Regions from separate parts of the Homo sapiens genome. Here regions 2 and 3 are each linked to region 1. Evidence: fine-mapped expression QTL. A gene starts in region 1. Each other region holds a variant in brackets. All regions are shown on one strand. Distances are from middle to middle.

The links.
Region 2: its variant is fine-mapped to the expression of WDR86-AS1 in whole blood (TOPMed, PIP above 0.99).
Region 3: its variant is fine-mapped to the expression of WDR86-AS1 in whole blood (TOPMed, PIP above 0.99). The same link has a PIP of 0.9 or more in blood mononuclear cells.

Annotation. Positions count from the first base shown.
Region 1 is chr7:151,405,824-151,413,893 of GRCh38, reverse strand. It overlaps WDR86-AS1 (WDR86 antisense RNA 1), which reads right to left and starts at 4,733. Exons shown (of 6, transcript NR_109857.1): 1 at 4,512-4,733; 2 at 2,582-2,666; 3 at 2,102-2,224; 4 at 1,824-1,927; 5 at 1,042-1,175; 6 at 540-622. WDR86 (WD repeat domain 86) reads left to right here and starts at 3,856. Exons shown (of 6, transcript NM_198285.3): 1 at 3,856-4,467. The coding sequence starts at 4,305. RefSeq lists an enhancer at 2,658-3,290.
Region 2 is chr7:151,426,646-151,434,715 of GRCh38, reverse strand. It overlaps CRYGN (crystallin gamma N), which reads left to right. Exons shown (of 4, transcript NM_144727.3): 4 at 4,536-5,884. The coding sequence ends at 4,668. LOC124901780 reads left to right here. Exons shown (of 1, transcript XM_047421163.1): 1 at 1-2,424. The coding sequence starts at 1,259. The coding sequence ends at 2,164. MIR3907 (microRNA 3907) reads left to right here and starts at 1,077; the gene lies at 1,077-1,227. RefSeq lists enhancers at 1,438-1,527, 1,798-1,897, 4,319-4,518, 4,839-4,908, 5,686-6,205. The variant C/A (reference allele first, on the strand shown) is at 4,620.
Region 3 is chr7:151,437,711-151,445,780 of GRCh38, reverse strand. It overlaps CRYGN (crystallin gamma N), which reads left to right and starts at 5,640. Exons shown (of 4, transcript NM_144727.3): 1 at 5,640-5,884; 2 at 7,537-7,785. The coding sequence starts at 5,864. RefSeq lists enhancers at 4,612-5,148, 5,860-6,360, 6,361-6,861, 7,223-8,070. The variant A/G (reference allele first, on the strand shown) is at 4,163.

The DNA of each region.
Region 1 (8,070 bases):
GGGGAAACGTCAAGTCCTTTTTCCATTTTAAAACTGGGTGGCGGTCTTTCATTGTTGAATTGTAGGAGTTTTTTAATATGTTCTGGATTGTAGACCTTTGTCAGATACGTGATTTTCTCCCATCATATGGGTTGTCTTTTCATTCTCTTGACAGTGTCTTTTGATGCACACGTTTTGAATTTTAATGAAGTCCAATTTATTTTCCATAGAGCCTCTTGTATGGTTTTAAAACTTATAGTGCTTATAAGATAGTACAAATATAGATACAAAGAATAATCTAATGAAACCACATGTACCCACTACTAAGATTTCACATAATCATTTGACTTCAGACTTTCAGTGACTGAGTTTTTAGGTGTGGGCAGGTATTTCTGCAACTGGGTTTTGCAGGTTCTCTGCGAGGTTCATCTTTGGCTCCCTAATATTTAAGTCGACACTCCTTCTGCTCCCAGAAGAGACTCCCTCCTCCTCTTGTTCTTCGGGCCTCTCACTCTGTCTGTTGCCTGCTGTCTCCGGTATCACCAACTTCTCTCTCCAAGTTCTTTCTTAGCAATATTTAAAGCTGATCTCTGTCTTTAAAAAGTTGAGTTCTTCCACACTGTGCCCTCCTCTGGCTGCCTTCCTGCAACCAGCATCTATGTCATTAGTGGTACAGATGCTCCTTGAGTGATTAACGATGTCATGTTCTGATAAACCCATTGCAAGTTGAGAATATTCTAAGTCAAAAATGCATTTAATATGCCTAACTTGTGGAACATCATTGCTTAGCCCAGCTTTCCCTTAAATGTGCTCAGAGCACTGGCATCAGCCTTACATTTGGGCAGAATCATCTTACACAAAGCCTATTTTAAAGTAAAGTGTTGAATATCTCATGTAATTTATTGAATACTGCACCAAAAGTGAAAAACTGATTGTATTGGCACTTGAAGTACAATTTCTACTGAATGTCATCACTTTCATACCATCATAAAGTTGAACAATGCTAAGTTGGGACTATCTGTACAATTACCCTCAAATATATCTTCGATCATACACTCTCACCCCCGGGGTGAAAAACCTTCAGGGCTTCCCGTTTTCTCTCGACTGCCTTGGGCCTGGGGTAGCAAGGTCTTCTCCCGGGAGCACCGTGCTTGTGAGAGTCTGCAGGTGGCTGCAGGACTGGGAAGGCTTCCGTCCTGTTGAAAAATACTAGCACTTAGCACAGTACCTGACACACAGTAAGTACCCAAACTATGAAGATGATGACCACAGGCACCCTCACCACCAGCATTGCAGGTTGTGCCAGAAGGGAAAAAGCAATTCTGACAAAGCTCTGGCTATGACGTTCCCTGTGGGCGCCCCTCAAGGTGCCTCCCTCTGTCACCACCTACACACACACACACACACACAACTCAGGAATATCCAGCTTTCACCATGCTTCTCAGAGAGGCCCCAGAGGGTCACTCTTTCCAGCAGGGTAAATTGTGGCAGTCCCTGTGGCACGGGGAATGAGCACTCCCTGGCACAAAATGCACCCGCCCCCCAACCCTTCACTTGTTAAACACTGCCCATTTCTTGCTTCTTAAAGCTTAACCATTTCCTCCTACACCCTACCAGGTTCCCTTCCCAAGGTGCCTTCCATTTATAAAGTGATTAGGTCCAGGAGGGCCTGGGCACCACGGGACTCCAGGCCCTCTTGGAGGCTCCAGAAGAGTTAAAGGTGTGAAAGGGGAAGGGAGCCCAGGTTCTGCTGGGGACCCAGCCTGACTCCTGGGTCTCTATAGCTTTGCTATCTTAAGGTGGAGGTTGGGGGAGACCCCAGTTTCAGGGGAATTAGGGGAGACCTCAGTTCCAGGGGAATTCGGTGCTGTTTTCCAATCTACCCAGCTTCTTGTACTCCTGTTAGATCTGGGGGCAATTTCCCAGAGGAGAGTCTGTAATCTACGACCTGCAAGAGAAAAGGGAAGACAGGCTGGCTGAGGACATCTGCACCCACAGCTCTACAGTCCAGACTCAACCCCCAGAGATGGCTGGCTCATCCCCACCAGGGGGCCACTTTGTGCCAAACCGGAGAAGGAGGGGTGGGGGAGGTGGAGAAGCCAAGAACAAAAAATCTATCAACCTGGAAAGAGGAAGTAGGTAAGGTCAGCGGTGTGTGGACTGCAGGCTCCCAAGATGATGGCGCTGGCGCTTCTGAACGCTCTGCCTGCTGGGAGCTGAGCATGGGGCTGATGGCTTGTGTTGGCTGCAGAGGAGAGGAACCAGAGTGCATGGGTGCCACCTTGCTCAGGAATCCTGGGTGACCTCCTTGAAAGTTAAGCTTTTCTCCTGGTGGTTCTTTCCTCTGGCCCACGACCAGGCAAGCTCGCCCAACCTACGATCTGTCCCCAGCTCCCAAACTGCTTTCAAACCCCTCCCCTCTTAGTTTCCAAAAGAGTCGATGCCTGGTTCTCCTTGGCCCCTCTGCCCAGAAAGTTTGGGTTTCCTCTGGCACTTCTCCGGATAAACCCTCCCAGCCTCCATGGTCCTCACATTCACCTTCCCCAAGGGCTGCAGCCGCAGGGCCTGCCCAAGATCCCCACTATACCGAGTCTGTCCTCACCTGGAGGCCACACCGCAGTTTCACACCTGGATGTGCAATGGGCCCCCTGAGGTTCACCGGTTCCTAAGAGGAACTGGTGATCAGCCTGTAGGGGACAAAACAGTCTACCCAGCCTCTCAGCACAAGACAGGCTCCCCGGCCTCTCCCGCCTCGCAGGCATCCAAATGCTGAAGCCTCCACCTCCTGAAAACGTCTCTCCTTTCGGCCTCCCTCTCTCCGGCTGGATGACCCCAAATCTCGTCCTAACGCTCCTCCACTGCCCCTCTCTCCACCACCTGCTAAGGAAGGGCCACGCTCCTTAAGCTGAGGCGCCAGCTGCTTTACAAGTTTTGAGGGAAAAGAACGGATTTCTCTGGTTAGGCCACTCTGGGTATAAACGACCCAACGGCCTGGGACACCCCACGATGGGGTTTTCTTTTGGAGTCTGGATAGAGCAGAGCGTGCAGTACTGGTCGTCCCATTGCGGGCTAGCTCGCCAAAGACGCCCCTTCCTTGCCCTTCTCCCTAGGCTCCTGAGAGAGCCCTGGAGCGTTCTGGAAATCCTGCTACCTTTAGGACCTGGGGGATCCGAGTAGGGGGGTCACCTTCCCCGTCCCCAGCGAAGTCGGCGCCGGAACTGCCCTAATGGAAACCAGCCGCCGGGCGCTCCGGGAGGGCTCAGGCCGACCCCGGGGTCCATTAGAGGCGCCCCAGGCCGAGGGAGCCCGCGGCGGCTGGAAGGTGAACTTGACATCCCGGCTCCACCGACCCCGCAGCGGCTCGCACCTCATCCCCACTCCGGCCAGACCAAAGTAGAATCCTGGGTGTGCGCGTGATTTCCCAGGGAGGGCGGACTCGGGGCTTTCCCTGTCGCACCCTCCATTGGGGGACCGCCCCCAAGTCCCCGAGAGCCCCTCGGGCAGAGTCCTTAGGGCTCAGAGCATGGGAGGACCTGGCTTGCCTGGTGGAGGCGAGTAGCCGAGGGGTCGGTGGAGCTGCGCCCCAAATGAGTTCCCGGCGCGCGATTCTCCCCGACCCCGACCCTTTGTCCGCCTCCCCCTCCCTCGTCCCGGCCCTTGGCTCAGGGGACCCAGGCGGCGGCGGCGGAGGTGGCAGAGGCCAGAGCCCAGAGGCGCAGCCCGGGCAGCTAGGAGGGTCGCACGTGGAGCCGTCCCCCGGACCCGCACAGCGACGAAGGGGGGAGGCTGCAGGCGCGCGGGGTGGGGGCTGGGGCGCAGCCCGAGAAGTGGGAGGGGATCGGGTGAGGGGTGGTCTCTGAGGAGGAGCCAGGCTGGACCGTATTGTTCCGCGCTCGGCCGGGGAGGGCGCGGGGCGCTCGGCTTCCCGTGTTCCTCTCCCCGCCCCAGCCCCGTGGGCGCGAGAGGAGGCGGGGGGCTCCTTGTGCACCAGAGACGCAGCTGCCTTGTTCGCCCGGTGGGGTGTGGATCCTCCGAGCGGTGCTGGGAAGGGGGTTCTCTCTGCCCGCGCGCCCAGGACTCTACCCAGGGCGGAGGTCCCGAGTGGGCCGCCCCCCGCAGCGCCCTGGGTTCGCGGGCCCAGAGGCTGGAGGCAGCGGGGAGCTAGGGTCCTTCACCCTCCCCTCGCCGCGTGCCTCCGCAGGAGTCGGGCTCCCCGTTCCCCGCGATGGCCGCGGGCCGCAGTCGTACGGAGCCGCCGCGCGGACCCCGGGGCGCCCCTCCCTAGCGGGGCGCAGCTCCTTCTTGTTCCCCGCCCTGCCAGCGGGATGGGGGGCGGCGGGTCGGCCCTGAGGGTCTGCGCCGACCACCGCGGGGGCATCAACTGGCTGAGCCTGAGCCCCGACGGGCAGCGCCTGCTGACGGGCAGCGAGGACGGCACGGCCCGGCTCTGGAGCACCGCGGACGGCCAGTGCTGCGCGCTCCTGCAAGGTAGACCCTCCCACTCCCTCCCTGACCTCTTCGCCGCAGCTCACCGGCCCCAGACCGCGGACCCCAGCTCCTGCGCCCGCAGACCCCTTTCTAGAAGTCCAGCCCCCGCTCATCCCGGCACACTAGCGGAAGAGCGCTTGTCTGGGCCCAGCATCTGGCTGTTGAGCGCACGGCAGGGCAGGGTGAGGTCTGGGGGTGGGGTGCGGGTGCAGAGCAGGGTGCGGCCGGGATCGGGTGGGTGGGTCGAGGGGCGTCCGCTACAAAGGCGAAGATCATTTGTCAACCAGCGGCAGGAAATCTCCCTTGACAACAATGTTAACAAACAAAAAGTTGCACCTATACTCCTTCTAAGCAAACCTTCCCTTGTCTCTAGGTGCCTTGTGGCCTCTTTGTGGCCAATTGTGCTCTTCTGCTGGCATTTCCTGTTGACGACTCTCACAGCAACAGTAGACGCTTGTTAAGGGCCAGCGGTGCGGAGAAGTGTGCCGTCGTCACACTATGTTACCCCACATACAGACGTGGAAACAGGCTGGGAGTTAAGTAATTCGCCCAGGTCGCACAGCCAGTGAGGGGTAGATGGCAGTCTGAGCCCTCTCATTGCTGTAAACCCTGCCTGCATGCCTGTTGGTTTCTATTTGTGCCCTGTACTCACTCAGGAGGTCAGTGTGCCTCGGGTGCACCTTCCCCTGGGCCTGTCCCATGCACTGTGAGGTCCCTTTCAGCTCTGGCCCTCCTACTGCCCAGGTAGCACACGTAGTCCCCTGGATGAGCCGCGAGGCTTTCTGCTGTGGGTAGTTCTTTATCACCGCGGGCTTTTCCACCATCATCAGTGAACTCTCTGTGGCCTCGCCCAGGCCTTCCAACTTAGGTAGGATATTAGCCCCAATATTGGCTAATCCTGATACTGCTGGTTTTAAATAAGAACAGTTGACCAGGCTCGGTGGCTCACACTTGTAATCCCAACACTTTGGGAGGCCAAGGTGGGTGGATCACCAGAGGTCAGGAGTTTGAGACCAGCCTGGCCAACATGATGAAACCCTGTGTCTAATAAAAATACAAAAAATTAGCTGGGCGTGGTGGCGGGCGCCTGTAATTCCAACTACTCGGGAGGCTGAGGCAGGAGAATCACTTGAACCCAGGAGGCAGAGGTTGCAGTGAGCCAAGATCGTGCCACTGCACTCCAGCCTGGGTGACAGAGCCAGACTCTGTCTAAAAAAAAAAAAAAAAGAAAAGAAAAGAAAAAAATATTACATAGTTAGGGCAGATATTTCAAACCCAACAGGGATGACTTTTGGATTACCGGTTACTTGGGAGTTGGTGTGGATAATGGAGAGGTGGCCACAAACTAACACACATCCCCCCCAAACAGCCACACACACTTATAGGCATTCAACCAGGAATGGAAAATATGAGGTCTTTTAGAAATGTTAAGTCCAGTTGGTATTGCTCCCAAACATAAGACTGTCTTGGGGGTAGAGGGGTGGGTGGTGTTTCAGAAATGCAGATCCCCAGGCCTGGGCTCCAGTGATGCAGTCCTCCATGAATAGGGCTGTAGAACTGGCATTTCTTCTTGTTGTTGTTTTTTGAGATGGAGTTTCGCTCTTGTTGCCCAGGCTGGAGTGCAGTGGCACGATCTTGGCTCACTGCAACCTCCGCCTCCCGGGTTCAAGCGATTCTCCTGCCTTGGCCTCCTGAATAGCTGGGATTACAGGTGCTCGCCACCACGCCCAGCTAATTTTTTTGTATTTTTATTAGACGTGGGGCTTCATCATGTTGGCCAGGCTGGTCTTGAACTCCCGACCTCAGGTGATCCACCCGCCTTGGCCTCCCGAAGTGCTGAGATTACAAGTGTGAGCCACTGCACCCGGCCTAGAATTGGCATTTCTAACAAGCTTTTGGGTGGGTCTTATGCACAGCTGGCCCCGGGAGCCCCTGGGCTGGGGACGGGTTGTGGGAGCCCAGCTTAGCCCACAATTAGGTGGGGTTTCTCCCCAGTGAGGCCCCAGGCTTTGCCAGGCTGCCGGTAGCCTGGTGGGCACTTGGCTTTGCCCCCACGGCAGCTCTGGAGCCTCACCAAGCCTCCAGGGCCCACCCTCCTGCCCAGCTCTGTGTCTGGCACCTGTGCCTCCTTCCTTCACACCCACTTTGGTGACCCTCACGGCTGCTTGTCCCCTTGAGGTACTGACACTCACTTCCCAGGGAGGGTGCCCAACCTTCTGCCCTAATTGAGGGCAGGGCTATCCCCGCTCAAGCAGGACACTGGAATGAAAGAACTGTGGCCCATTTTGCTAGGATTGTTTTTGCTGTTATATGGGTTGGTATTTTCAGGAATTTTCAAGGACGGGGACAGAGGTCATCTTTCTTTATCCTGAGATTCTACTGATACGCTCAACTTGCAAAAGAGTCATTGTGAGTGTGTGACAGTCCTTTTGTGTGGATCCCCAAAGAAAGCAAGGTGTTGCCAGTTCCTTTCTCCTGCAGGATTTTTTTTTTCTATCAGTGAAATATTATTAAAATGTCTTAACATTTGTTTAGTGCCCTATATTTTATAAATAACACATCTTTGTGCTTTTTTATTGTGTAATGAATCCTCACAACTCTGAGGTGGGTGGGATTGACACCAGTTCACAGAGGAGAGTGGGGAGGTGCAGACTCATGAGCAGCATACACGGCATTCTTGTTGTTTTCTAGATACCATCGATAATGGGGTGGGTGCTGTCGCCAACATCCCTCGAGGCGTGGTGCGGTGGCAGGACTTGTCCAGGGTCCCGCAGCTGGTCCATGGCAGAGAGGGTTTCTGAAGACTGTACGGTGCTTCTCTTACCACTGTGGGGGAAGTTGTGTCCAGACCACATGGCTGGTCTGTGGTGGCCCCATCCCTAGAAGCATCCTAACTCTAAATCTAGATCTCTTTCCACTTTGGTTCCGTCCTGGCCCTTGCACAGCTCTGGGCCCACAAGAGCCTGTGGTTGGCCGGTCCTGGATTTCTCGAGCAGAGTGGCTGGGGCTGGCGACTCCTACGTACGCTTTTCCTCTAGAGACCTCTGGCTCTGTTCATGGCAGCAGGGGCAATCAGGGACCGCAGGCTTTCCTGGGTGTCTCGCAGAGCTTAGGAAAGTTTGGGCCAAAGGGTGAGAGGGAGAGGAAGAGTGAAGGCCGTTCCCTGTGGCGTGCGGGGTTGGTGGGTGAGGTGCTGCTCCCGGAGGCCCCAGGGAGAGTGGGCTGCAGAACCGGCGTGTGGGGAGCCCCTCCCTGTGGGTGCATTCACTTGTTCATACACGGAATTGCCTTTCAAATGCGGTTGGTGAGCTCACAGTGAAAAAGGCTTCATTGCAATTACTCTGCAAAGAGAAGAATTACTTGCCACTTGCTTATCCCTGACCTCCTCTTTTTCAGGTTTATTCATTGAATATCTCCTTATTTGGGGGCACTTTATTGGTTCAATGAGATGAGTGACATTTTCCAAAATGGTAGTACCTATCCTATCCTGTTCCTGTTGAGTAGGGGACTCAGCCTGAAGGTGGCAGCCCACTGTGGCTGTCCCACACGCTTCCTCGTCTTCTAACATGAGGGGGCGGGGATTGTTGTTAATTTCCTGGGTAC
Region 2 (8,070 bases), 21 kb before region 1:
TGTTAAGTGAGGACTTACTATATATGGGAGGATACACATGGGTTATATGCAAATACAGTGCCATTTTATATCAGGAACTTGAGCATCCTCGGATTTTGATATCCAAGGGAGGTCCTGGAACCAGTTCCCAGGGATAGGGAGGGACTGTGTACATCCCACCTTTCCCCGGTGGCCTGATGTTGGCCCCCTTCCTGCTGTTTCTGTCACTCTAGCTGGCTCCAGGATTCCGTTTTACGAAATTGCATTTTGCCCTAAATTGGTGGCACCTGGAGCCCAGGGGTGGCATTCCAAAACAAGAATTTGCCCTGGAAAACTTGCTGGCTAAATTGTGTCTTGTAAGGCCCAAGTCATGCCTTTGCGTGGAGGATGTCCTGAGGCCCTAGACACAATCCCCCCGGCCCACCCCCAACGCTCAGGGGCTTGTTGAGAACGAAGGTGGGGAAGGTGGAGGCTAACATTTCTCTGACTGAGGGGCACACAATCCCCACTGTCCCTGAGAGGAGCCAGCCATCGGGACCCCAGGTGGGGGACCCAGGAGCTCAGCCTTTGCCGCCTAAGACTCTTACTCTTACACAAATGTAAGCCCTTGTCAAGGAGGTAACGCCCCCAGGTCCCCTCGATCCGGAGGGGACACTGCTAGGAGGCCTTTCCTGGGGTCGGGGGAGTGGGCAAGGCAGGGTCCCTCCACCACCTCCCACTGCCAAGACTCCTTCCCTCTGGGTCCCACATCAGCCCAGGCATGACCCATCCCCTCAGACCCGTGTCCTGGTGGGCTCTCGGAGGGAAATGCACTGGCGTTCTGCCTCCACCTACCCTCACCTGGGGAAGGGCACGGTGCTGATGTGGGCAGGACAGGCCCCTGCCCTTTCCTCTGTCTGCCTCCTCCCAGTAGCCACAGCCAGGACAGGGGACAGCAGGATGGGTGGTTCCCCGCCCCCTCCTTTTGGGGGTGTCCATGTGAGAACCCTCATGTGGCCCAGGACATGGCTTGGGGCATTTCTTGCCCACCACAGGGTAGGAAAGGACCAGCTGACTCTCTGAGGTGCCTCTGAGGCCCCAGCTGTGGCACAGGTGTGGGGTTGGAAAGCTGTAGGTGTGGAGGGGCATGGATACGGGGGCCATGAGGGTGGGGTCCAGGCTGGACCAGGCCTGCCCTGAGTCCCCCAGCAGGTGCTCCAGGCTGGCTCACACCCTCTGCCTCTCTCTCTTCCTTCCTGGCCCCAACCCTTGAGGCAGCAGACTGTGCCAGGCACCAGGCATGACAAGCCTCACTCGTCTCAGAGATGGTGAGGGAAGGACAGGGTTGGGCCAGCCCCTGCTCCGAGCTGTCCTGAGGTGTCTTCCTTGGACCACATGCCCCTTTCCAGGCAAAGGCCACTATCCTGGACCTCCAGTCCCTTCCTCCTGGTCCCCCGTTCCCTCCCCACCGCACCTTCCTGCTTTTCTGGGCCGGGCCCACAGCTTCCTGGGTGATGAAGAGCTGTGTTCTCTCCTGCCCCCACCAGCCCGAGGTCCTCCAGGCTCTGTAAAGACTTGTCCTGACTGTTTCTGCTCTCTGGGTTGTTGGTGGCTGCCCCAGTGGTGTGCAGAAGGGGAGGAGGACAGGAAGGGGCCCTGCTTGGGACTCCCCAACCCTCCTCTGTGCCCTGCAGGCTCCTCCATGCAACTGCACCCCCACAGCCCATTTCCTCTGCAGGGGAGGCCCCGTGAGGGCAGGAGGGGGCAGGAACCGTGTTGTGTGACCATGGCACCTCTGGTACCTGACACAGTGTTGGGCACACATGTGGGAACCTGCTGGCATTCACTGAATGAACGGTGCCCTCTGTGCCAGGCCCCCCACCAGGTGCTGGGGGTACTGTCTGTGCAAGGTGGTCCTTATCAGGGAACAGGAGTGTGTGGGGCGTGCAGTGATGGCGGGAGTGCATCCTTGCCAAGGATGGCTGAAATGCAGTGGCGCAATCTCGGCTCACTGCAACCTCCGCCTCCCTGGTTCAAGCAATTATCTTGCCTCAGTCTCCCAAGTAGCTGGGATTACAGGTGCCCACCACCACACCCAGCTAATTTTTGTATTTTTAGTAGAGACGGGGTTTCACCACGTTGGCCGGGCTGCTCTCAAACTCCTGACTACAAGAGATCTGCCTGCCTCGGCCTCCCAAAATTCTGAGATTACAGGCGTGAGCCCCCATGCCCGGCCAGGACTGGTCAGTTTTAAAATGTGGACATTACTGGGCCTGTCCCCACACATGTCACACCCCAGCATGGACCCCACAGGGCACTGGGGAAGGCACCGTGGGTGCCTTCGTGTAGCCCAGAGTGAAGGGGCCGCTCGACCGGGAGGGGTTGCTGGGTGGCCAGGCTGTGCAGGCTTTTCTCTCCGGAGTCCCGGGGGACTTCCTGGCAGCCCCTGATCCCCACTCCCCTGGCCTCCAGGTGGGTCCTGTATGAGGAGCCCAACTACCACGGCCGCATGTACGTGGTGGAGAGTGGCGACTTCCGCAGCTTCTCGGACTGGGAGGCCCACAGCGCACGAGTGCAGTCGCTCCACAAGGTGGTCAACTTCTTCCAGCCGAGCCCTCCCACCGGGATGGCCGGGCGCAGCTCTGGGGACAGGGGCAACCCCTTGCGGTCCCACCCAGACCTCGGGACCTTGGGCGATAAAAGTCCTCAAAGCCAACGGGCGGCTTCTGAGTGCTCTCTCGGCAGTGGGCATCCCAGCCCTGGGAGGAGCTGGATGATCCAGGGCGCTTTCCCGGACTCCCAGGGACCCCCTGGGCCAGGGAGGGGAGAGTGGTGGGGAGAGGTGGTGAGAAGCAATGGGGATGGGGCAGGGCCGGAACCCAGGCCGGTTCAGGACTCCCCAGGCTCGCTTGGGGCTCTGCCTCTCTGTGACTCGGCAAGGTGAGGCTGCCAGGCCATGTGGCCAAAGGCCTGACCCAGGGTCTCTGTGTCTGATCTCTGGGTTTTATCCTCATGGCTAATCTTGGCCTCGGAGTTTCTAAGGGAGACCCCTCTGGAAGGATGGTTTCGACCCAGGGCAGACCCCTCTCCTGCGAGAGAGAAAACAGTTAGTGGTGGTGAGTGTCAGGGTGGGGGCTTAGCTTGAACAGGTGGGCTCTGTGGGAATGGAGGGGCTTTCGGGGAGAAAGGGGCATGGGGCGTGTCTGCTGCAGCCATAGCCCCTGGAGCAGTAGGGCTGGCAGACCCAGAACCGGCGGCTCGCGTCTTCAGCTGGTGCAGCACCAAGCGCTCGCCTGTAGAATTCCTCCATTCCTGGGCCCTCTCCAGGACACTGGGTCCTCCTGTTGGGGTGGGCTTGAATCTAGAGGGGACACCCCACCCTTGAGGGGCAGAGGGGAGGGAGAAGTCTGTCCTGGAAGGAGATACTCGGCCCAGGCAGTGGGATTCCTGGGCATAAGAGGTCCACGTCCCCAAAAGCATCCCCCCACTCCCTCCCCACCCACGCCTATGCTTCCAACTCACTGGGGAGAGAGGAAAGGTCCCACGAGGGGAACTCTGGTCCCTGGGGGTGGCCCAGGTAACTCCCTGCTGCCGGCAGCCCTCCAGCAGAGTCCTGAATGGAGCCTGCCTGTGAGGAAACCATAGCCCACCCCAGAAGGAGGCAACAGATGGAGTGCTCTGGGCTTCTGAGGAGAACACAGGGGCCCTGGACCCGAGATTCCTGAGCATGGGGGCTCCTGGACATGGAGACCCCAAAGATGTCCACATGGCCTGTGCCTGGACCAAGGCCTGGCTGGATGAGGGATCAGTGGGGGGCCAGGTGCATGGGTTGGATCACCCGTGTGCCCACAGAGTTCTGGCTGTGGATCTGACTCCTGGTCCAGCCTCTAATCCCCGACTGCGATCCCAGAGTCCCCCCAACCAACTGGCTCCCGACTGGCCTCTCAGTTCCCGGGTCCTCCTCACCATACATCTTACTCCAGTTTTCTGAGTAGATGGAGGGGTTTGGACTGGGGATCAGCCCCTCTAGGCTGGTCGCCCAGCTCAGGACTCCGAGGGAAAGCCCATGAGCCCTGGGTTACTATCTGAGTTGAACTGAGACACCCCGACAGGCCTAGGGGGTGATGGAGTACGGCAGGGAGCTCAGCGAGGGAACACAGGGTTCCCGAGAGAAAAACAAAATCTCAGGGGCTGATTCTGTCGCACAGTGTGGTGGCCTGAGTGTGGTGGGCCAGGGGATGGCTGTCCCGTTCCTGGGTGTCCTCCAACCTCTCCCCATCCCTCACTGAGAGAGCAATGGAAAAAGAGTCACGATGGGTCACCCAATTCACCCAAGACAATTCCCCACCAAGAGCTGGGTGGCAAAGACGGAGGGGCCCCATGACTGCTGTGGGACCCCCGTAGGCTGTCCCATGACAGCCGAGGCCAAATGAAGACATGAAACCACTAGGCAACCGTCCACTCCGCCCAGGAAAGGGGAAGGGGCTCCCTGCTGCCATGTGGTAGATGGGTCCCCAAAAGGCCTGCTCTGTACCCCTAATGCCCTGGCCCCACCTCCTTTCACCTGCAAACCACAGAGCATGGAGCCCTAGAAGCTTCGGAGCTGAGGACTTCCAGCTGAGCAGCTCTCTTCAATCAGATCAAGGACCGGAAGAGGCCAC[C/A]ACAAAACCAGCAACAACCCAGCCACCTTTCCTGACTGCAAACCTCTGAGCCTGGAACCGATTGACATGTAAATGCACCTGCACCGTTTCTGAGCCGGGAGAGTGTTTACTTAAAATCATGCCCTCAGTTTTCATTTCTCTGCCAGTTTGTTAGGGAGGTGGAGCCTTCTGTGTGTCATATCTGCCAGCGGGAGGCCCTCCCCACCCATGGCAAGGGCCCTGTCTCTTCTGAAACAGCCGTCCAACCCTCCACCCCACAGCCTCCTTGGGCCTTGGCACCCTGCTGGCCTCAGGCCTCCACAATCTCGCACCTCAGCCCACAGCTGATGATGGTGATGATGTTGATGAATATTTATGGAGCACTGACTTAATGCCAGGCTCTGTAGTAGCTGGAATCTGTGTAATTTTACTTATCATATACAATAATGCCAAGATGATATGCTTATCACCACTGTACAGTTGAGGAGAGCCAGCCACAGACAGGTTAAGCAACTTGCCCAGGGTCACACAGCAGTCAGGACTAAAACCCAGGTCTGGCTGGCTGATTGATCCTTTTCGTTCCTAACCACTCCTCTATAGAGCACCACACATTTGCATATTTAGATATATTTTTGTCATGAATTTGGCGCAAACCCAAAGCCTCTCCAGGCCTCAGACCCTGTTCTGTGAAATGAGTGCAATCATGTCTGCTGTACCAACTGTATACCCTTGTAAAAGCCAAAGGCGTGACCCATGAGCGGGTGCCATATGAGGGCTGGTTAGTAGTAGGTGACCCAGTAGGTGACGGGGTGGGGAAGCAGGCAGGGGAGTGGCATCACAGGAGAGAAGGTAACTTGGCTCCAAACTCCAACCTGATTCCCACTCCATCCCTCACTAGGATGTGACATTGGAGAAGCCACTGCTGTGTGTCTCAGTGTCTTCAGACGTACAGCAGTGGTAATCATTCCGCCCCCTCATAGGCAATTAATGCCTGGGGAATGAAATGAGAACTGCAGGCCCCACCGGTTCAGTCCAGGTCCTTGGGAGTCACGGGAAAAACCAGGCCTAGCAGCCCTTCCCATGAGTTCCAGAGGCTTCCCCTGAACTCTTCCTCTCCTCCCCAGCACCAAGGCTTAGCAGCATCTCATTAACTGGTGATTTAATGCTTCTCGAATGGGCTTTGTGCTCCTGGGTGACCTCCCCCTCACCCCAGCCCCCTGCTCCCTAATCTGTCAGCAAATCTGCTTTTTGTCTGAAAGAGGAAAAACAAGATTCCCACCAAAGTGCTTGTGGGCAGCTTGTAATTTATCTGAAGTCCGTCCAGGGGTCGATGGACCGAGGGTGAGAGGCCCTCAAGAGCCACACATGCTTCACATATTTCTACCTCCCTCTGTGGTTTGGAAAGCTGGGACTTTCACAGAGCCATCCCCTCATGTCCTCAGCCCTAGGTCCCCCTGCCCTGCTGGCCCCCCGTGCACTGTTTATCAGGCCCAGTCTGACCACAGGAAAAACATTCCCTTTGAATCCCCCCAGCCACCCCATCCCCCGCACCAAGAAGTTCCTCTCACCAGCCAAGGGCTGGTCCAAGAAGTCTCTGTTGGCCCCTTCCCCTTCCTGGGCCTCCCTCCCATGCCCCGAGGTGGCCTGCGCCTGGCAGGCTACCGCCTTCTTGGCTGGAGGCTTCTTGGCTCACCTCTTCACCCCACTGGGTGCCTTAAGAGCAGGGCTGTCCTGCCTGTGTTCCCCCCAGGAAGCCACAACAGATCTTCAATCAAAGCCTGTTGGATGAGTTTGAGCCCAGGGACGTCAAAAAAAAAAAAAAAAAAAGAAGAAAGAAAAAGACAAACTAACAAAAAACTTGTCAAATGAGACAGTTTTAAAGGTTTAGCTCCAGAGTTTCAGTTTGTGAAGATGACAGACTTCTGGAGACAGACAGATGGTGCTGACGGCCGCACGACTATGTGTGTGTACTTAATGCCACTCAACCACACACTTCAAATGGTTAGGATGATAAATTGTATGTGTATTTTGCCATAATCAAAAAAAATTAACTCCTTGTTGCTGAGGTGCTCAGGACTGTTGGGGGCAATGTGGGAATGAAGGCCCTCGCTGGATCCCAGGGAACCCTGTGGGTCTCCTGTGCGACCATGCCCCACATTCCCTACCTGAAGAAGCTATCACCTGCTTATTGATTGCGTGGGTCCCATCGGCTTGGCAGGGCTCTTGGCTGTGGCTGCTGGGGAGGCTGAGATGCAGGAGGAGGAAGAGGAGGAGGAGGAGAAGGTCCTTGTCCTTCAGCAGGGATCCCTGGAGCGTCCCTGTGGTTACCTGGGACTAACCCTGCCTTCCGGACCCCCAGGACTTAGTAGCCCAGGTCTGGGGACACCAGGAAGGGGTGACTTGGGCAGCCTGCCCTGAACAGCGAGCATTTGTGTGAACAGGCTCCTGGCTTCCTTGCCTGTGGACAGCCCGCTTTGGAATTGTGATTTAAAAGGATCCTGTGGAACCCAGCTGGCGTGGGCTGTGCATGGAGGGGTGGAAGCCCTGGACCCAGCCTTGCTGGGGCTGGGGGATGGACTGGGCAGGTCAGTGCTGGTAACGCTAGTCCTGGTCCATGCCTGCCCTGGGACCCCCAGGACTGCCCTCCCTGGGTAGGGGCAGGGGCAGGGGCAGAGGATACGGCTGGGCTGAGGGTGCGCATTCTCATCCCGAAGAGGGCTCAGCGATGTGTAGGATTGCTCTGGCTAGGGGGCTGAGCAGGTTATAAGGACCCTCTCCACGAACCCTGCCTGGCCCCCAACACCAAGAGCGGGAGTTCTCACCAGTTGGGCTGGATCGTTCCGCGGGCTGAGATGGTCGTGCCCTGGGTTCCATTCCCGTAAAGTGTTCATTTCTAGGTGCCAGGCACAGGGAGCAGGGCGGCATGTCCCCCGCACAGTGTGCCCAGCCTAAGCACCAGCCCTGGCATTCCTAAACTGCACAGACAGACATGCGGGCAGTAGAAATGGGCGCTCCCACCCAGTGGGGCTGCTGGGTAGAAGTCCCTTCATGGGGCTGGTGATGGCCGAGGTGGTGTCACCTCTACACACAGAGGGGACGCTCAAGTGTTGCTTTATCCTTGGAGGCACTGGGCCCAAGGCCAGGGGAGGAGCCCATTGTGATAAAAACGCAGATACAAAAAGTAGGGGAAGAAATCTTTGCGGCAGAGGGGACTTAGAAAAATGTTGTAGAAAAAAGCGAGGCATCCATAATATTCTCCCCGCCACAAGTCCTGTGCTGTCTGCTAGAGAGGAACTGCTAATTGGGCCAAAGCAAGCAGGGAAACAGGATCAGCTCCATCATTCGCTCAGTCCCAAAGATGAAAGGAAGCTAGTTTTCCGGAAGAAGCCCAGCAATTCCTGGGACCGAGGCCAGAGAGAAGTTTCTTCCACGGGTCCGCTGGCCCCATGCCGATGACTCACAAGCTGCACCC
Region 3 (8,070 bases), 32 kb before region 1:
CATGCTTCAACCCAGCAATTTCACCCAGAGGCATGGGCCTCAAAGGAGGCAGTATTGGTCCCAGGGTGTGGTTGGAATTTTGTAGGGTGTTTCTGTTTGTCAGAATGCTGGAGGATGGGTGGGCAGGCCCCAGGATGCTGGATATCCCACCACATCCAAGGAGACACTGTCCCACAATTTCCCCTAGAAACGCATAGTATTTTTTGTGTGGCTTTAATATATACTGAAGATTTCCTGGTATGCAATTTATTAGATATATAAATGGAAGATTTTACTTAGTTTTCTGAGGAATTCTACTGAGCTTTGTTCATTCACCATTTCAGAAACTCTTGTCACTAAAACAAAAAACCAAATTGCAGAAGGCTACATATAATGTAGCCACACTAAAAATTTTCTATTATTTACAGATACATACAAAGAAAGTAAAAAGATGAAAACACACAAAGACATAACACAAAAATCAGGACAGTATCTTATCCTTATGGGGAAGGAAGCCTTCAATTCTATGTATAATGATTTCTTATTTTAAGGAAAAACATTGATCCGACATAAACCTGGCAAAATGCTAAGATTTGACAAACTTTGTATGGTGGTGTTATTGTTCCTTATATTATTTCCTATTCTTCTCTGTGCTCTAAATTACCCAAAAACGGGAGAGACAAGAGGCAGAGAAGGGAGGCAGGCAAACGGGTGATGGCTCAGGGTGATTTATTATTAAAACCATTAGCCTCCACGCTGTAAAACTCTCCAATGCTGAGCAGCTACTGGTAGTTCTAAGGCTACATGTTATTGAGATTTTATTTTTTAAGCCATGATAGCATTCTTAGCCTTGCTTCTTCTGTGCTGTCACGATATTTATTCTCAGTCCATTTCCTTAGAATTTTGTCCCCAACTAGCAGCTGTATAGTGACTCAAGATCTCACCTACCTCAAGGTACATTTTAACAGTGCTCTACCAAAGATGACTCAAAAAAATGACTCTGATGTTGAGGTTTGGTGATACTGGCATTTGCATATTATGTAGCTATTTTGGGGAGGGGTTCTACCTGGCCACAAATAGATAATATGAATCTTAGCAGACTCCTCCTCTGGTAACTGAATTATAATAAAATCCCAGGTGGGAATTGAGATATTGCATTAGAAATAGGGAATGGAGGTGAAATTTGCAGGTATCTTATTCATCTACCCATTTTTAATAATTCTTTGCGTGGGGCTTTCAGCTAGGCATTTTTTCATATATATTTCTCAGAAAACACCCCAAATCACTGCTTCTGTTTTGGATTCTGTTGTCATCACCTTTTTGGGTTGTCTGTGTGCTCTGGCCCTGCTGTGATGAGGGCAAATACAAATTAAAAAGAAGAAGTTCAGCTGGGCACAGTGGCTCACACCTGTAATCCCAGCACTTTGGGAGGCCAAGGCAGGCGGATCACTTGAGGTCAGGCATTCAAGACCAGCCTGGCCAACGTGGTGAAGCCCCATCTCTACTAAAAATACAAAAATTGGCCAGGCGCGGTGGCTCACGCCTGTAATCCTAGCACTTTGGGAGGCCAAGGCAGGCGGATTGCCTGAGCTCAGGAGTTTGATATCAGCCTGGGCAACATGGTGAAACCCCATCTCTACTAAAATACAAAAAACTAGCCAGGCTTGGCGGCGTGTGCCTGTAGTCCCAGCTACTCGGGAGGCTGAAGCAGGAGAATCGCTTGAACCCAGGAGGTGGATGTTGCAGTGAGTTGAGATCACGCCACTGCACTCCAGCCTGGGCAACAGAACAAGACTCCATCTCCAAAAAAAAAAAAAAAAAAAAAAAAAAATTAGCTGGGCGTGGTGGCACACACCTGTAGTCCCAGCTACTGGGGAGGCTGAGGCAGGAGAATTGCTTGAACCTAGGAGGCAGAGATTGCAGTGAGCTGAGATCGCATCACTGCACTCCTGCCTGGGGGACAGAGCAAGACTCCATCTCAAAAAAAAAAAAAAAAAAAAGCTCTTAAAACAACAATGAGACACCACTGCACACTTATTTGAATGGCTAAAATCCAAAACTTGATAGCACCAAATGGTCAGAATGAAAAATCATATAGCCACTTTGAAAGAGAGTTTGACAGTTTCTTTTTATTTGATTTGATTTTGAATTTTTTAGAGACAGGGTCTTGCTATGTTGTCCAAGCTGGTCTTGAACTCCCGGCCTCAAGTAATCCTCCTGCCTTAGCCTCCTGAGTAGCTGGGATTACAGGTACAAGCCTCTGCACCTGGCTTTTATTTTTTTTTCAGTTTGTTGCACAACTAAACATACCTGTAACATATGATCCAGCAATCCCACTCCTTAGTGTATAGTGAAAGGAGCACACAAAAATCTACACGTGGTTGTTTATAGAAGCTTTCCTCATAATTGCCAAAACTTGGACACAACCAAAATGTCCTTCCATTGATGAATAGATAACTAAACTGTGGTACTTCCAGACAAGGGAACATGATTCAGCAGTAAAAAGAAATGAGAGACTAGGCCAGGAAAAGATATGAGGGAATCTTAAATGCATATTACTAAGTGGAAGAAACCAATCTGAGAAAGCTACTTGCTGTCTTAGTCCGTTTTGTGCCGCTATAACAGAATACCACAGACTGGGTAATTTACAATGAACACAAATGTACTGGCTCACAGTTCTGGAGGCTGAGAAGTCTAACATCACGGTGCTGGCATCTTTCAAGGGCCTTCTTGCTGTATCATCCCATGGGAGAAGGGCAAAGAGAGGGTGAGAGAGAGCAAGCGGTTGACCTTGTAGCCCTTTATGGTCAGCGTTAATCCATGAATGAGGGTGAAGCCCTCATGACCTAAACCCTTCCCATGAGACCGCATCTTTCAACATTGTTGCATTGGGGATTAAGTTTCCAACACATGTGTTTTGGGGGACACGTTCAAACCGTAGTAGCTACATACTGTAAGATTCCAAATACATGACATCCTGAAAAAGGCAAAACCGTGAAGATAGTAAAAAGATCAGTGGTTGCCAGGAGTTAAGGGGGAGAGAGGGATAAACAGATGGAGCCCAGGGGACTTTTTTTTTTATCTTTTTTTTTTTTTTTTTGAGACGGAGTTTAACTCTGTCGTCCAGGCTGGAGTGCAGTGGCGCAATCTTGGCTCACTACAACCTCCACCTTCCAGGTTCAAGCAATTCTCACTGCCTCAGCCTCCTGAGTAGCTAGGATTACAGGCGCCTGCCACCACGCCTGGCTAGTTTTTGTATTTTTAGTAGAGACAGGGTTTCGCCCTGTTGGCCAGGCTGGTCTCAAACTCCTGACCTTAGGTGATCCACCCGCCCCGGCCTCCCAAAGTGCTGGGATTACAGGTGTGAGCCGCCGTGCCCAGCCCACACAGGGGACTTTTAAGGTGGTGAGAATACTCTACCTGGTGCTCTAATGGTGGAACCATGGCATTACACTGTAGAGGCAGCAAAGTTCTACCTCCATCCTCTTAGGGTCCTGGCTGGGCCTGAGAAATAAATTGACCTAAGACAGATTAACAAGAGAAAAGCATACAAACTTATTTAATACAAGTTTTATGTGGCATGGGAGCCCTTATAAGGAGATGAAGACCCAAAGAAAAAGTTAAGAGTCAAACACTTACATACTCAACTGGACAAAGAGTAGCAAGCTGTGAAAAATCAACCACATTATGTGGGGAGGCTTTAAAAATGTGTTATTTTAACAAAGTCTACGCCGCATTCTCTCAACTTCTCATCCTGTATCCCGATGTATAACATAGGTTCATCGGCTGTGACAAATGTACCACTCTAATGGGGGCGCTGATTGTGGAGGAGGCTCTGTGTGTGTGTGTGTGTGTGTGTGTGTGTGTGTGTGTGTGTGTGTAGGGGCAGGGGGTATACAGGAAATTGCTGTACCTTTTGCTGAATTCAACTTGAACCTAAAGCTGCTCTAAAAAATAAAACCTTTTTTTAAGGCTTATTTTTCCCTGTTGAAAATAAGGGAAGAGGCTTCCCTTTCCTCCCTTTTCTTGCAGAATTTCCTTCTCTGTCATTTTCAAATGTGTGTAAATCTTTTTAATGGCTAAACAAGCCTCTTGCCAGTCTAACAACTCAGTCATGTTTCCTCTGGGAGCCTCTTTGAGTCTTGACATCAAGGAGTAAGTGCCCCCACCCTCCCCGTTTCCT[A/G]AGAAGCCTGACTTCAGCTGTCACCTGACTCCAAATTGCAAAACCCACCTCCAGTCATAGAGATACAAGAAAATCAGCAATTTTATCCTGAAAACATGAATGCAGTGGGTTGTGTCTGCTTGGCTACAGAAGAGTGAGATCTCTCTCCATCTTTGCGATCTCTTAGGGGAGAGATCGTGATGCAGATCGCATTCCAGTTTAAAGTTTATTCAATAATAAAATTGTTTTTTTTTCCTTCTACCTTCGTGGAGAAGTTTTCTGGGTTGGCTGGAGATTTTGTTTTTAATTTTATGTCCCCACCAGGGCCCAGGTCCAGAGAGAAACATTGGAATGTGTGGCTTGGCAAGTAAGGGCGCCAGTGGAGGCAGCTGGGCGGCGTCCCTAGGGAGGGGCGTCCCTAGGGAGGACCGTCCCTGGGTTCAAGGGTGACATGCAGGTTCTGGTTTGTACCCTGTCTACTTTTGAAAACCTCCCACAGCAGAGGCAAGGTCACCCCTCTGCCCCAAGAATCACATAACCTCCTCTTCCTGGGCCTCAGTGTCTCATCTGTGAAATGGTCATAAAAATATACTGTTTGAAGGAAGAGCAGCCCAAACTCCTCCCCAAAGCTCCTCCCTCCCCTCCAGCAGAAGCCCCTGTGGAGCACCTGCCCCTCTCTCCTTTGATCTCAGAGCCTGTCCCCCACCACCCCAGCCATCTGAGTCATGAGTCCTGTGTTCCCAGCTCATCTCCCCAGCCGTGTGGGGGCTGCACATCCTGTGGGCTCCATGTTCGCTCTGCTCACTCCACAATCTCTGAGCCTCTGCTGTCTGCCAAGTGCTCGTTCTGGGCCCTGGGGAACTCTCCCTCCGCGGTGGGGCTGCTTTGTGCTGTAAACTGATCCTGGGCGTCCAGGGTGGCTTAGTTGGTGCAGCAGAGAGGCAAGGGGCAGAGCACTGTACCCCCAGCTCAGGGCAGCGCGGGTCACCTGGTCACCCTAGGCAGGATCTTCAAGGAGAGAGGGACCCAGGGAGGGAGAGTGCCAGGGAGGGAGGCAGGCAGGAAGAGAGCGGGAGGAGGGAGGCCTGACCTGGCCTGGCGTTTTGTGGGGTGTGGGGGGGTGCATCAGGAGCTGGGTGAGTTGGAGCCGGAGGTCTAAGGTGGGGACCTGGGAGCTCAGACCAGAGCAGCCAGGGGAGGGGCGGTCAAGGGCTGTCTGTCTGTCCGGGGAAGCTTGGGTTGCATCCTCGTGGAGACAAACAAGTTGGCACCAAGGCGAGACTACCTGCAGCCAGGTGAGAAAGGGGAGTGGGCTGGGGAGCTCGGAACAGGCCTTGGGAGGGAGGGAGATGGGCGTGAGGGCTGAGGGGCAGCGCAGGGGAAGAAAGGTTGGAGGGCTAGAGAGACACCTCCCCTCCTCCCCCCACCACTCCAGGGCAGGGCAGGGGCAGCCGCGGGCTGGGCGGGAGGGCTCAGGGAGGAAGGAGGCTCGGGAGCTAAACGCGGAGAGCACAGGGAGACCCCGGGCAGGGCGGGCTGCACTCGCGGTGGCACAGGGTGGCCGCGGCGGGTCCCAACCGCCTGGTGGCCCCTCGGGCTTAGCACGCCCGACAGCACTAACGCTCCGGGGCCGGCCCAGCAAATCTTTTGTCCGGGGCGGCGCTGAGCCAGCAGGGCGCTGCCCGGTGTAAACGGGGACCCGCGGAAGGGGCGGGGCGCACCATGGCGCAGCGCTCGGGGAAGGTGAGTGCGTCCCTCAACCCCAAGGAAACCGAGTGGGGCTCCGCCTTCGCCCCCTGTGCTAGGGGATGCAGGAGGGTGCACACTGTTGATGGTGACAAATCCAAGGGAAGCTGGTTTAATTTCTTAATAAAATGGGGTGGCCTCGCTACTGGCCTGGGGCCTCTCTGGTGTGGATGGATAGGAAGGTCTCCATCTCCACTCCTTCCTTCTGGGATTCCAACCCCTCGCCCTGCAGTCAGGAGCAGGGAGGGTGTTCAGACTCCCTGGGGCTTCCTTGGGGTGGGGGAGGCTTGGCTTGTCCCACAGCCCTCCGCCCCACTGCTGCGGCTTCTTTGCCCAAGGCTGGCCTCTATGGCTTTTCCTTCCCAGGGTCTCTTCAGGGACACTTAGGGCTGGTTCTCTGAAAAATGTTGAGATTTGAGGGAGCCCCGAATCCCTTTGGTGCCCAGACCTCCCTGAAGGTTTCAGGGGCCCTCTACCAGCCGTGCCTGGTGCAGGAAGGACGGGAGACCTGGCTCTCCCTCGCCCTCTCCAGTGCCCCTAGCCTAGCCACTCCCATGAAGCCTTTGGTCTCCAAGGCCACATTCCAGAGTGTCTGGGGGTGACTGTGTTGCTGTATCAGTCTGCATGGGCCAGGTGATGCTTCAGTAACAAAGGGCCCCAGTAACTCTGGGGTGCAGAACGCCAAGGTGTCTGCCTCCTTTCCGGTGAACGCATGTGGCCACGCCTGACTCCAAGGGGCCTGGAAGGGCAATTCTCGTGTTCTTTTGAGCGAACTGGAGACACTGGTGAGGCACAAGCGACCATAGTGATGGGGAACATCACTGCACTCTGGCAGGACCCTTCTAGGGCCACAGTTCTTGAAACCCAAAGAGTTACTAAATGGTTGAGATTTTAGGTTCCACAGCAGGAAATGAGTCTGGCGGGTTGTTATTGCTTCACTTTGTTTTGTTTCGGGACAAGGACAACCTGTGAGTGCCACGTAGCTATAAGACACGATGTCTGAACTCCCAGCAGGGTGATGGAGCTCCAGATCTGATACATGCCTGCTACCCAAAGGAGTGACCTACAAAACACAGAGAGACAGGGTGGCACTTATAAGCCCTCTTTTGCGAACATTAATCCCGAGCCAGGCCCTGACGCGGCTTCGGCCCATTCAGCCTCTCCAGTGAAGGAGGCCCAATCCCAGGAACCCGAATTTCTGCAAAATATATGCTGGGTTACCATGAGAGGGTTGTGGGTGAAATTTCTTCTTTTGAAAACACCTCCTTTAATGTTATTATCGGCTTTATGTTTTAATAATTAAAAAATGAGTTAAAAATGCAGTGGAAGTTGAAAACAGCCCATTTTGAAATGGGCACCTAGACAAAGGGGAAACCCCTGTCCCCAAATCGCTGCTGAAATTTGTCTGCCCCACTGTGAGCTCCTAAGGGTGGGGAGGAACAGTAGCTGTGTATGGCATCAGCCTGCCAGCTGTTCGTTCTTTTGCCCAATTGGCAAATAGTGTTGGGCACCTACTGTGTGCAGCAGGTCTGGGCTTTTGGGGGCCTGGGAGTAGGGGTTCCATCCAGGGTGTTGGGACCCAGACGCCAGCCTCCAACGCTGACGGAGAGAAGCCCCTGACCCTGAGCTCTGTAACCTGCCCTTTCTAGATCACTCTCTATGAAGGCAAGCACTTCACAGGGCAGAAGCTGGAGGTCTTCGGGGACTGTGACAACTTCCAGGACCGGGGCTTTATGAACCGAGTGAACTCCATCCACGTGGAGAGCGGAGCCTGGGTCTGCTTCAATCACCCCGACTTCCGGGGCCAGCAGTTCATCTTGGAGCACGGCGACTACCCCGACTTCTTCCGCTGGAACAGCCACAGTGACCACATGGGCTCCTGTCGGCCTGTAGGAATGGTGAGTGGGCCCGTCCACCGAAGGCTGAGTCTTCCTGCTGGAGGGACCGAGGGTCAGCCCTGGCAGACAGTGGCAAGGAATCGGGGAGCGTGGTCCTCCCGGCTTTAAAGTCTGTAAGACTGAAGGAGCTATACCCAGAGCCACCTGCTGGCATGAGGTGAGTAGGTGGGGGGCCAAGTTGCTATGAACTGAGTGGGAGTGGCCCTGAGTTTTCATACAGGTATCAATAAACCACTTTAAGTTTCGGAGCCAAAAATCTAGCTGCATTTTCCATTTAAAATGCTG